Regions from separate parts of the Homo sapiens genome. Here region 2 is linked to region 1. The links come from fine-mapping of genetic effects on gene expression. A gene starts in region 1. The other region holds a variant in brackets. All regions are shown on one strand. Distances are from middle to middle. Region 1 holds the start of HECW2-AS1 (HECW2 antisense RNA 1). Region 2 overlaps HECW2 (HECT, C2 and WW domain containing E3 ubiquitin protein ligase 2).

Region 1 (5,388 bases):
GTTGTGAGTTTTCATGTTAAGAGATTGCCTTTTTACCTGCCTTTGCATTTCTCTCCAGTGGATTCTGTTTTAGTAAATAATTGGACATTGGCTTTCCAATTCTTTTTTTATTTCTCTGCCACAGGAAAAAAAGAAAAAAAAAAGATAGCAAGATTGTTTATTCCAAACACCGGGTGGAAATTGTTAGGAGCCACATACGTTATTTTGGCCTAAATTAATCATGTCCCTGCTTTGTATTTTACTAAGCACTTATCAGGTAGACAGAAAAGTGTTTTGTACTTGGGGAACACAAAGATAAAGGAGGACGGGCTGAGCACCATAGCTCGTGCCTGTAATCCCAGCTACTTTGGGAGGCCGAGGTGGGTGGATCACTTGAGGTCAGGAGTTCACCTGGCCAACATATGAAACCCTATTTCCGCTAAAAATACAAAAATTAGCCAGACATGGTGGCGCATTCCTGTAATCCTAACTACACTGGAGGCTGAGGCAGGAGAATCACTTGAACCCGGGAGGCAGAGGTTGCAGTGAGTCGAGATTGGGTCTCTTCACTCCAGCCTGGGTGACACAGTGAGACTCCATCTCAAAAAAAAAAAGATAAAGGAGCAAGGGCTTTTGCCCTGAAGAAACTTATGTTTCAAAAGGAATTTAAGTTGTACCTCACTAGCCAAATCAGAAGGTGTACCCATAAAAGTGCTAGAATGTACTCTAAGGGGCACAGAGAGATAAACGTACCCATGTAGAGAGAGCCAAATGATAATACTTTGTATTAGTATAACCTTAATCTTCATTATATTACCACTGAGGTTGAATTGAATTTCTTTGTTAAGAAGAAGCCAGGCTGATGCAGTAAGTAGCTCACTCCTATAATCCTAGTAGTTTGGGAGGCTGAGGCAGGAGGATCACTTGAGGCCAGGAGTTCAAGACCAGCCCAGACAACATAGCAAGACCCTGTCTCTACAAAAATGTTTAAAAATTAGCTGGGTGTGGTGGTACATACCTGTAGTCCCACCTACTCAGGAGACTGAGGCAAGAGGATCACCTGAGCCCAGGAGTTTGAAGCTATAGTGAGCTATGATTGTACCACTGCACTCTAGACTGGGCAACAGAGAGGACTGCCACAGATTCCTTCTAACTGTATACATTATAAACTTGAATAAATATATTAAAGTAATTTTCAAACATTCCTCTAATCATGATCAGTTGTCTTTAACAACATTTCTCAAACTTGTTATGTTATTCCAAACGCTGGGTGGACTCATGAAAATTTGTAAGAGTCACATCTGTTATTTTTCCACTCTAAAAGGAAAAAGAAATATTGCGGACCTATAATGTTGACGTTAGTCACTTTTATTTTAAACTTAAATGTGTACAAATATAAAATATGTATAAACCTCTTATGCTTACAGCTTTTATAAACTACAAAACCAAAAGACATACAAATTAAGTTAAAAACTAGAAAAAATCAATAACATTTGAATTAATGCTATTAATATGAGGATACTTTGTTTTTCAGAAGCCAAATCACCAATGTTGAGACCATTATTGGTGGAAAGACACATTTGCACCTTTCTGTGCTTGTGTTTGACTTGATTCTTTTGATTTTTTGCATCTCTGGCCTAGCATGTGCCTCCTTGGAATTATCAGTCATCATTTTTCCTTCTTAACAAAAAGCTTATTTTTATCTACTGATTCATTGGTTTGATAAGCCAATTCATTTAATAGTGTAACCTGAAATACAATACTGAAGGATAAAACATATCATTGAATGTGCCTTGGGATGAGTGGATTCTACCACCACTTTTCTATTTGCAAACTATTGCAGAGCTTTTGTTCTTAGAATAAGCCAGGATATCTTTTATGCATTATTTAGCATGAATGCATAATTTTCTTTTTAAATCCATCTCTTTTATTTTCTCTTTAGCCTGTGGTAATTTACATATACATTACTTAACCCCACTTGATCATTTTCATGATGCAAGTTAATACTGTAAGAGAAAAGGTTTTTTTAATTGCTAAGCGAAGTGTGCGTAAGTGGCAGATGGGGACTGGTGTTATTATCATATTGAACATCAAGGCCCTGACAGCCTAAGGGCAGCCAGGTGTGTTCGCCGTCCCTTTAAAAGCTCACCTCTGATCACTTTGCACCAAGTGCCCTATAAATACAAACATGGGACCCGAAGTCATATGGCAAGATTCAGTCATAAATGTCATCCATCTCATCTAAAATATTATTATATTGTTTCATGTGCTTTGATCATCGAAGTGAAGACACAAAATTTAAAAATTCTTGCAGAGCTTGAGCTTATGTATGCAAATTTCTAGTAGACCAAGGATGCCAGTTTGAGAATCACTGGTCTATAGCATATTGGGCAAATACCTGGTAACCAAGAAGTGGTTCCTTTGTTTTTCTCAGAAAAGATTGGTGACATTTCCAGGACGTCTGCTGACTTCTGTCTGTTCCTCAGCCTTGATCTGCTCTCTTTACAGGCAGTAAACTAATGCCTTCTTTGTTTCTACGTGAAAGGACTTTATAAAGAACTGTTTAGACCGGGAGAAGGTATAAAGCCTAACCACGCTTCAATTAAGTGAACAGAAGAATTTAAATATTTTCACATCAAATGAGAATTACCTTTTAACTTTCTCTCTTCCACTGCACTGTAAGCTCCTTGAAAAGGGACTTTCTCTTACTCCCCATTGGATTCCCAGCGTGTGGTACCATGACTGGCACACAATAGGCACGCAGAAAATGTTCACTGAAAGAATGACTCAATATCAACATAAGAAAGTACTTACTGGTGTGATGTACATCAGACGACATGTTCCAGTGTCTGGTTCCTGAAAGCATATGACCCATAGCTTGTCATTGTGATGAATTAGCTGGCCTGGTAGAAAATTGGTCTCAGCCTGCCTCTCATATGTTCTTACCTGAAAAATCAGACCAGTTGCCTTCACAGACTGCTAGTTTTTATCTGGAAAGTGATGAAAAGTTTCCCATTTGGCATACCTCCTCTGGTGCCTTTGTCCTTTCTTTTTCTCATCCTATCATCCTTGTGACTCAAGAAGCGATGATGTTTTTCTTATTCACAGGAAACTTCCAAGCCGCAGACCAGGGCCTGATATCTACCATCACTCAACTCCTTCTGTGTAGCTCCAGTTAAGGAAGGAGGGGAGAGTGCTCAGCCTGTTTGTTTTTTGTCTTGTTCTGTTTGCCTGGATTCACTGTGTTGATAGACAAAAGAGATAAGCTGCATATTTGTGGGAGATAGCTTTTGATTCTTCAAGATCAAAGCATGGTGTTACTGACCCTTATAAGAGTAGTTCTTTGGTTAAGTTATTATTCATTTTTCTTCAAGATAACTTTCCTCTGATTTAGCTTTTATCAGCCAACATTTACATCTCTTATCAGAAAAACCATTCACCAGATAATGGGCCTGGGTTTCCATCACGTGTTTCAGATGTATGATTCCAAAACTTGAGGGAAAATGTTCTGCCTGGTTCAAGCCTTCACTGAAATAACCTTAAGCAGAGAGAGGCTGGCCTTCTGAGCAACTCCTTTACGTACATGCCTACCACTAATTTCTAATAGTCTTTAAAAAAAAAATAGTAGTTAGCTGCTGGCAATAAAGTACAGAAAGGAAAGTTTGGCAAATACTAAAGATTAGCTGCTTCATCTATCATATAAAATGGATCTAGCCAGAAGAAACCAAGGACTGAACTCTGTTTGTCATACCTCATAAGCTGTGTGGCTAAGGGCAAATCCATTGACTTTTCTATGCATTAGGGAATTTTTCATGTGAACATGAAACCTTGCCTTCCACCTCAGTGCCTTCAAGTCAGCAAGCAATCTTAAGAAAAATATTTCAAATTTGGGAATATAAAAATCAGTGCAACTTGGCCAGGCATGGTGGCTTACGCCTATAATCCCAGCATTTGAGAGGCCAAGGCAGGCAGCTCACATGAGGCCAGGAGTTTGAGACCAGCATGGCGAACATGGCAAAACCCCATCTCCACCAAAAGTACAAAAATTAGCTGGGCGTGGTGACACATGCCTATAATCCCAGCTACTCAAATGTCTGAGGCAGGAGAATCATTTGAACCCAGGAGGCAGAGGTTGCAGTGAGCCAAGATCATGCCACAGCACTCTGGCCTGGACGACAGAGTAAGGCCCTGTCTCAAAACAAACAAACAAAAAAATCAGTGGAACTTTGTGAAAATATCAAGTAGAAAAACAAGTTGCTTGTAGATAAGAACTAAATCTAAATAAATACTTGTATCAGTGATTGGTATTTTACTTTATGGTATAGGAATCAGAATATATTGTCCATAGCACTCAGAATAAAATTGCATATTTGCATTATCCTGTATATTCCAATGAAATAGAATGATTTTAGTACCATAATTTGTGTTTTTATATTTTTCTTCATCTTATAAAAGTTAATATGGTGTGCTTTGAAATAGCATGATGTAAATAAGGGAAGAAAGCAACTAGGAAAAAAATTATTAAAATTGTATTCATATAACAAATTGAAAATAGTGACATGATGATGACTCATCAAACAAAAAAGAAAAAAGCTGGTATCACATTTACCTATAACAAAATAATGGTAGAAATAACTCACCTTGTGTTTGATATGTATATGTATATATACATTTGCACAGGTATGCACACAATCTATTTCACCAACTGTTGTAGCAAAGTATTTCAGTTTTTTCTTTATTTAAAAAAGGCATATGCTTTTACACTGAATATATACATATGCTTTTACACTGAATATATAATGCATAGATACTATCTGCTTCCAATTAGGAATGAGCTCATCACATGCAACTTAAAGGTATGGCCTCAGGAAAATAGATGACTCTCCCAACACAATCCCTTTTTGGAACAGCAGGGCATCAGCGTAAGACTATATCGCTAAAATTCAGGCCCACAGTCAGCTTTAACTCAAAGCAGACACTGATTTTATTGGTTGAATAGTATACTATTTATAGTACTTGGGCAGCAAAATGATGAAGCCAGTGAAAGAATCTTTCTCCCCACAACATTAGAACTGGGAGGTGTTGATGCTTACAAGATCCCCCCCCTTGAAGGCAAAGACCATGTCTCTCTTGGATGTGTATTCCTAGGGTATTACACAGTAGCTGCCACATAATAGGTACCAAAAAACATCATGACTATTATAAAAAATGCTCTTTACTACTGAGTTATAGCCTAAAGGTCTACCATATACATTTTGTGCTGTTTCTTTTCTTGATTAGGGAGAAGATCCAATTTATCCGAACTGAAGGGACTCCAGGATTGGTGCGCCTTTCAAGCGATGCAGACCTTGTTATGTTGCTGAGGTACATACGTAACACTCACTCTTGAAGCAGAAGGTCTCTTGTCAT
Region 2 (5,388 bases), 51 kb before region 1:
CTGAAACTTCAATATATTGCAGTGCTTTGAGGTCAGACCCACCAGGAAGACTCAAAAGGTGCTCAGCTTTCTCTTCTTCTGGGATAGAGTTATGCAAAGAGGCCCTCCCCAAGGAGGCCCCTCACCTATTAGGGAAGTGGCTGCAGGGGTTTGAGCCAACATCATGTGGTCCAGATAGATGTGCTCTATTCAGCATCTGTATTAGACCCAGCAGCACCTTTCCTCTCTGTGCAGGTCACTCTCTTTCTACCCTAGGGACAAGCTACTGAAGCAGTGTAGTTTGAGCTTTGATGGCCACCATGTGGCATGATCATGGTGCACTGCGGCCTCAAACTCCTGGGCTCAAGTGAAGCTCCTGCCTCGGCCTCCTGAGTAGCTGGGACTATAGGCAAGCATGATCATGCCTGGCTGGTTTTTTTGTGTTTTTATTTTTTGTAGAGACAGGGGTCTAACTATGTTGCCAGGGCTGGCCTTGAACTCCTGGCCTCAAGCAATCCTCCCACCTTGGCCTCCCAAAGTGCTGGGATTATAGGTGCGAGCCACTGTGTCTGGCTTTGATTCTTTTTTCTTTCTCTTTATCATTATTATTGTTGTTCTTGTTATTTTAGCACCTTTTCATCATATTTTCAGGGATTTACTTGTTTGCTTTCTTCTTTTTTCATTCTTATTTCTCCCATCTCAAGAAGGGAACAGATCTTGGACTTAGTACTAAGTTTGATCAGTGGTGATGGTGATCTACCAATTGGTTCTCAAAATCTTACTCTTGCCTTAGACCACACAGAGTGCACTGTGGCCTTGGTGGCTTGTGTAACTCCAGCTCTGGTTGAGAGATATTCTAATGATTCGTAAAAAATAAGAAAGTTCCAGGCCTTGGAGTCAGCATGACACTGTTGAGAGCCTCCCAGGGAAGTAGCTTGGACTCAATTATGCCCAGAATGCCTTAAGAATTTTCTGTATCTTCTCATTCTGATGTTACTGATGGTCCTGTCAGCTAGAGGTAGTTGAGGGCTAAAGCCCTCTAAAATATTATCGGTGTGACAAATGTTGGTCTTTTTAGCATTAAGATGAGTGAAAAAACAATCGCCAGCCCAGCCCCTCTGAAAAACTATTTTCTTTTTCTCTTATTGATTCCAGTGTAATTGTGACTTAACCCATTGCTGCATTGGAGACAATATGGAATTGTTGTATAAACGTTTTTCCCCCAAAATGGTAGTTTTTCTAGGAATAGGCCTAGATTCAAGATGAACAGTCTGGGTTAGTGGACTCTGATAGGATCCCAGGATGTTGCATATTGTTAGGACTCGTCTATTACTTATGTGAGGGGTTCAAACTATGGGGGAACATTTATCATTTTTGTGGTTGTATACTTTCATTATTAAAGTATTTTTTAAAATGAAGGCCTAAAACCATGCAGTGAATCTGAAAAGTATAATTAATCTAAACTTAGAATTTCTACTATGTTTAGGGTTAGGGACTCTTATTCTCTAAGGTTACAACTTTGTTTTGAGGAAAAAATGGATACTTTTAAACTAAAAAGCTACCTTATTAAAAATTGAAGATTAAAGTGCCAAATATGCAACTACTTGACTTTTTAAAAAACTTTTTGTTCAAATAAAATAGCAGAAAAGAGCACATATGGCCTCCCGAATTCTTTCTACTAAACATACATGGCAGGCCACGCCATCAGCATTCTAGAAGTCCCCTTTGTACCCCCTTTCAATCACTGACCGCAACTCCGTATGGGGAAATGGACCTACCGTCCTGATTCCTAAAGTCATAGATAAGTTTAGCCTACTTTTGTACTTTATACAAATGGAATTTTACTTCCTTGAGTGTTCAAATAAGAAAAAAATATTTTTAAACACTGTCATCTGTCATTTATCACAAAGCTTATAATTTTCCTTGAAAGTACCTTTAGTTCATTAGAACTTAATCATCTCGCCATTTTGGTGATGATACCTGTGGTTATTATAGTTTTTTATAGTGGATTTATACATTTATTTCACAACAATCAGGTGCTTGATTTTACTAAATCCAATGATAACCAATTCAAAACCCTACCCATAGCACCCCCCCACCCATCCCTGATACGTTGTAATTCATGCTGTTTAGTTGTTAACTTCTCAATATCAGCATCCACTGAGATGTATTCACACCTCATCCGATCATAAGCCAAGTGGTCCAGTGGAGACCGAGGTCTGATTTGAAGGGAGTGGGAAAGGATGATGAGATGAGCAGAGGGATCACAGAAACAACCCTGCGCCCTTCCCACATATGTTGATTTTAAAAACTGTAAACTCTGAAGACCTTACGTTCTACCTGCCTCTGTTCCCTGCTGAGGAGACCAGTGCTGTGACAGTAACCTTGGAGTAGTTTTACCCACTTTCTAATTCTCCGACTTTCCCTTCATGTCCAGCCACTGAAAAGCGCCTATTTATATTTAAGTCTTAGGGTGTCTAAGAGTCTACTTGCACCTGGATTTTAGGCAAGGTTTAGGGTTTTGTTTGTTTGTTGTTGTTGTTGTTTTGAGATGGAATCCAACTCTGTTACCCAGGCTGGAGTGCAGTGGCGTGATCTCAGCTCACTACAGCCTCTGCCTCCTGGGTTCAAGTGATTCTCCTGTCTCAGCCTCCTGAGTAGCTGGGATTACAGGCATGCACCACCACCCCTGGCTGAATTTTGTATTTTTAGTAGAGACAGAGTTTCACCTAGTTGGCCAGGCTGGTCTCAAACTCCTGGCCTCAGGTGATCTGCCCGCCTTGCCCTCCCAAAGTGCTGGGATTACAGGTGTGAGCCACCGCACCCGGCCGCTGAGGTTTAGTTTCTTGTGAGCCCCCATTTCATGGTCTCTGAGAAATCTAGCATTTGCCTCATGGGTTTGTTCAGCAAACTAGCTACTGTTTTAAGTTCTTATTAATTTGTGTCAGTGTTGCTCAAATTTTAGTGTGTCTAGGAATAAGCCGAGAAGGTTGTTAAAAGTGTAGATAACTGAGCCCTAGCTTCAGATAGTCTGATTCTGAAGACCTGGGGTGCATCATAGGAATCTGCATTTTTATTGATCCTCAAAGTGATTCTGGCACATGTTGTCAGAGTCCACCT[A/G]CCTTGAGAAACATTTCTGTAGGTAATAGTTTTCAAACCTTATTATTGTCATGAAGCTATTTATGCAAATGAAATATTATGTGGAACACCAATATACACAGCAATAACATTGGAGCTGTCATGGCTAAAATAGGATTGTCAGGTGTTTGTGGAGCCCTGTCCCTCAGGGACTCAAATCTCCTGGCCCTGTAAGGCTAGCCTAGACATAAAATGTTACTAGGTTCTTGCTGAACTTAATATAATAAAATGGGCATAATTTTATAGATTCCTAGAATACTAGAACTGGAAGAGACCTTTGCAATTGTTTGATTGTGTCCTCTAATTTTTCAAAACTGTGATTCATAGGGGTGTAGTGACTTTTTTTAAGGTCTTGTAGTGAAAGTGTGTCAAGCCACAGCCAGAAATCAGGCCTTCTACCTCCCAATTCAGTGCAAAACACACACACACACACACACAAAATCGTTGCTCTCGTTTTCACTGCACCCTGATTATATAACATATTTGACAATGTGGCAAGACAAGGAAGTAAATGTTAAGTCCTCAGCCTTCTAACTCTGCCTATCTCATTTTAGCATTGTCTATCTGAAAGAAACTTTGATGCTATGAAATGAGTTTTCATATGCTTTCTTATACCAAAAACAAACCAGGCCCAATATAAAGACATATAAGATGTTGGAGCAGTTGTACCCAGCAAAGTAACTTTGATAGATACAACAGAGAGCTAACCTTCCTGCAGGCACCTCTGCTGCCTTTGCCTGGGTAGAATGATATTGACAGCGTGGGTAGAAGTGGATATGTAGTTCATGGATAAACCAATAGCATAACAGCCCTTCCTGATTCAGAGCCAAGCATTCACTTGAAATTGGCACTATAGAATTTGTCTTTATGGGGTCTTGAGTAATTACATCAGTGTGAAGATACAGTATTTGATAGGGATAATTTTAATATGTGTTCAGTGTTCCATGACCTTAGAAAGCAAATTTTTGGTCCTTGTTTTCTTATTCTCCCCATTGCACATTGAAAGGTCTTTATTGAACTATAAATTAAGGCTATTACTGGCCTTTGTAGAAGATGAATACAAGAATCATTCTTTTTTGTGGCTTTGTGTCATTTTAAATTATTTTTTCATTTATTACATGCTATGTGCAAGACACATTAATTTGGCTGTTCTCTCTTCCACCTAGCCATTTTGCTATACATATAGACCTCAAGCAAGCCATAGTCATATTTCACTTGGTAAATTCCTACTTTGTTAGTTCCAGGAAAAAATTCCATCTTTGAGAATTTCTTTCACTGTTTTTGTCAGAAAATGGAAAGTATGCAACAATATGTTTTCTTTTCTGCCATAACTGCCAGAAAATTAAGAGCCAAATTTTAGTAATAATCTAATCTTGGGAGTTTGGCAGCATCTTCTCTCTCTGTTTCCTTTAGCTGGTCTAGTTGGTCTCTATTTTTTTATCCTGAATTGACCTATTCTACATTTTTAAAATTGGGACTACTGTAAACATTCTTTGGAGAAGAATTGGTCATTTCTTTTCATGTGTATTTGATTTGATGTCTATGTGCCTGAATTACCCTGACTCCGATGAGAAAGGAATGAGATGGGGTAATTGGTTCCCAAAATCTTTTGAGATGGAAAAGCATGCAAGGAGCAGAGCAAAACAGTGAAATAAATCAAAGTGTTTTGAAAAATGGTTCCTGAAGATGCTTTAATGTACTTGCTATTTGTGAGCATATCAACAGGCTGGGCGTGAGGTCTTTTGAAAATGTCTTATTGATGGGACTGCAGTGCCCAAAGAATTCAGATTTGGCAGGGTGTTTCATGGTAGAGTCTGTGTTACCTTGGAACATGAATGGCATTGAGTTGTTTGCTGTCTGTGTGGTGCTTTTGTTCAGCCCAATTCCTCTTTCTTTTGCCATTTGTCATAAATTACAATGTGCTGAGATCAACAAAAGATGTCTTTCTGCTCCTAGCTGAGGTGATGGCCTTCAGCAATGGTCTGGTGCAGGCTGAGCTCTACCATGCAGGTCTTTCCAACCCTAAGGACTCTGTTGGGATACTTACCCTGTTCCCTTACAGAGCAAATGCCATAGGTGGTCAGGAGAAAATATGCCCTCCTTCTGGTCTCCAGGATTAGCCCCACTGTGTCTGTTGATAAGCATGTGATCACATGGACAGTTTTGGGATAGTTGAATGTGTCAGGAGAAAAATGCTTATTAATTTCAAAAAATAACTTACACAAAAATATAAATGCACAAAGAATTTTCCTGGTTAAAGAATAGATTTCT

The links. PIP is the estimated chance that this variant, and not a neighbour inherited with it, causes the effect. A credible set is the group of variants that fine-mapping cannot tell apart.
Region 2: its variant is the best candidate, but not a certain one, in a credible set for the expression of HECW2-AS1 in whole blood (INTERVAL, PIP 0.84).

The regions. Positions count from the first base shown.
Region 1 is chr2:196,257,778-196,263,165 of GRCh38, reverse strand. HECW2-AS1 (HECW2 antisense RNA 1) reads right to left here and starts at 3,142. Exons shown (of 3, transcript NR_110226.1): 1 at 2,926-3,142; 2 at 2,794-2,835; 3 at 1-115. HECW2 (HECT, C2 and WW domain containing E3 ubiquitin protein ligase 2) reads left to right here. Exons shown (of 29, transcript NM_001348768.2): 18 at 5,260-5,343. RefSeq lists an enhancer at 2,474-3,673.
Region 2 is chr2:196,308,936-196,314,323 of GRCh38, reverse strand. All of the region lies in intron 10 of HECW2 (HECT, C2 and WW domain containing E3 ubiquitin protein ligase 2), which reads left to right. Among named protein-coding and RNA genes, the nearest start is that of HECW2-AS1, 52 kb to the right of the region's middle. The variant A/G (reference allele first, on the strand shown) is at 3,100.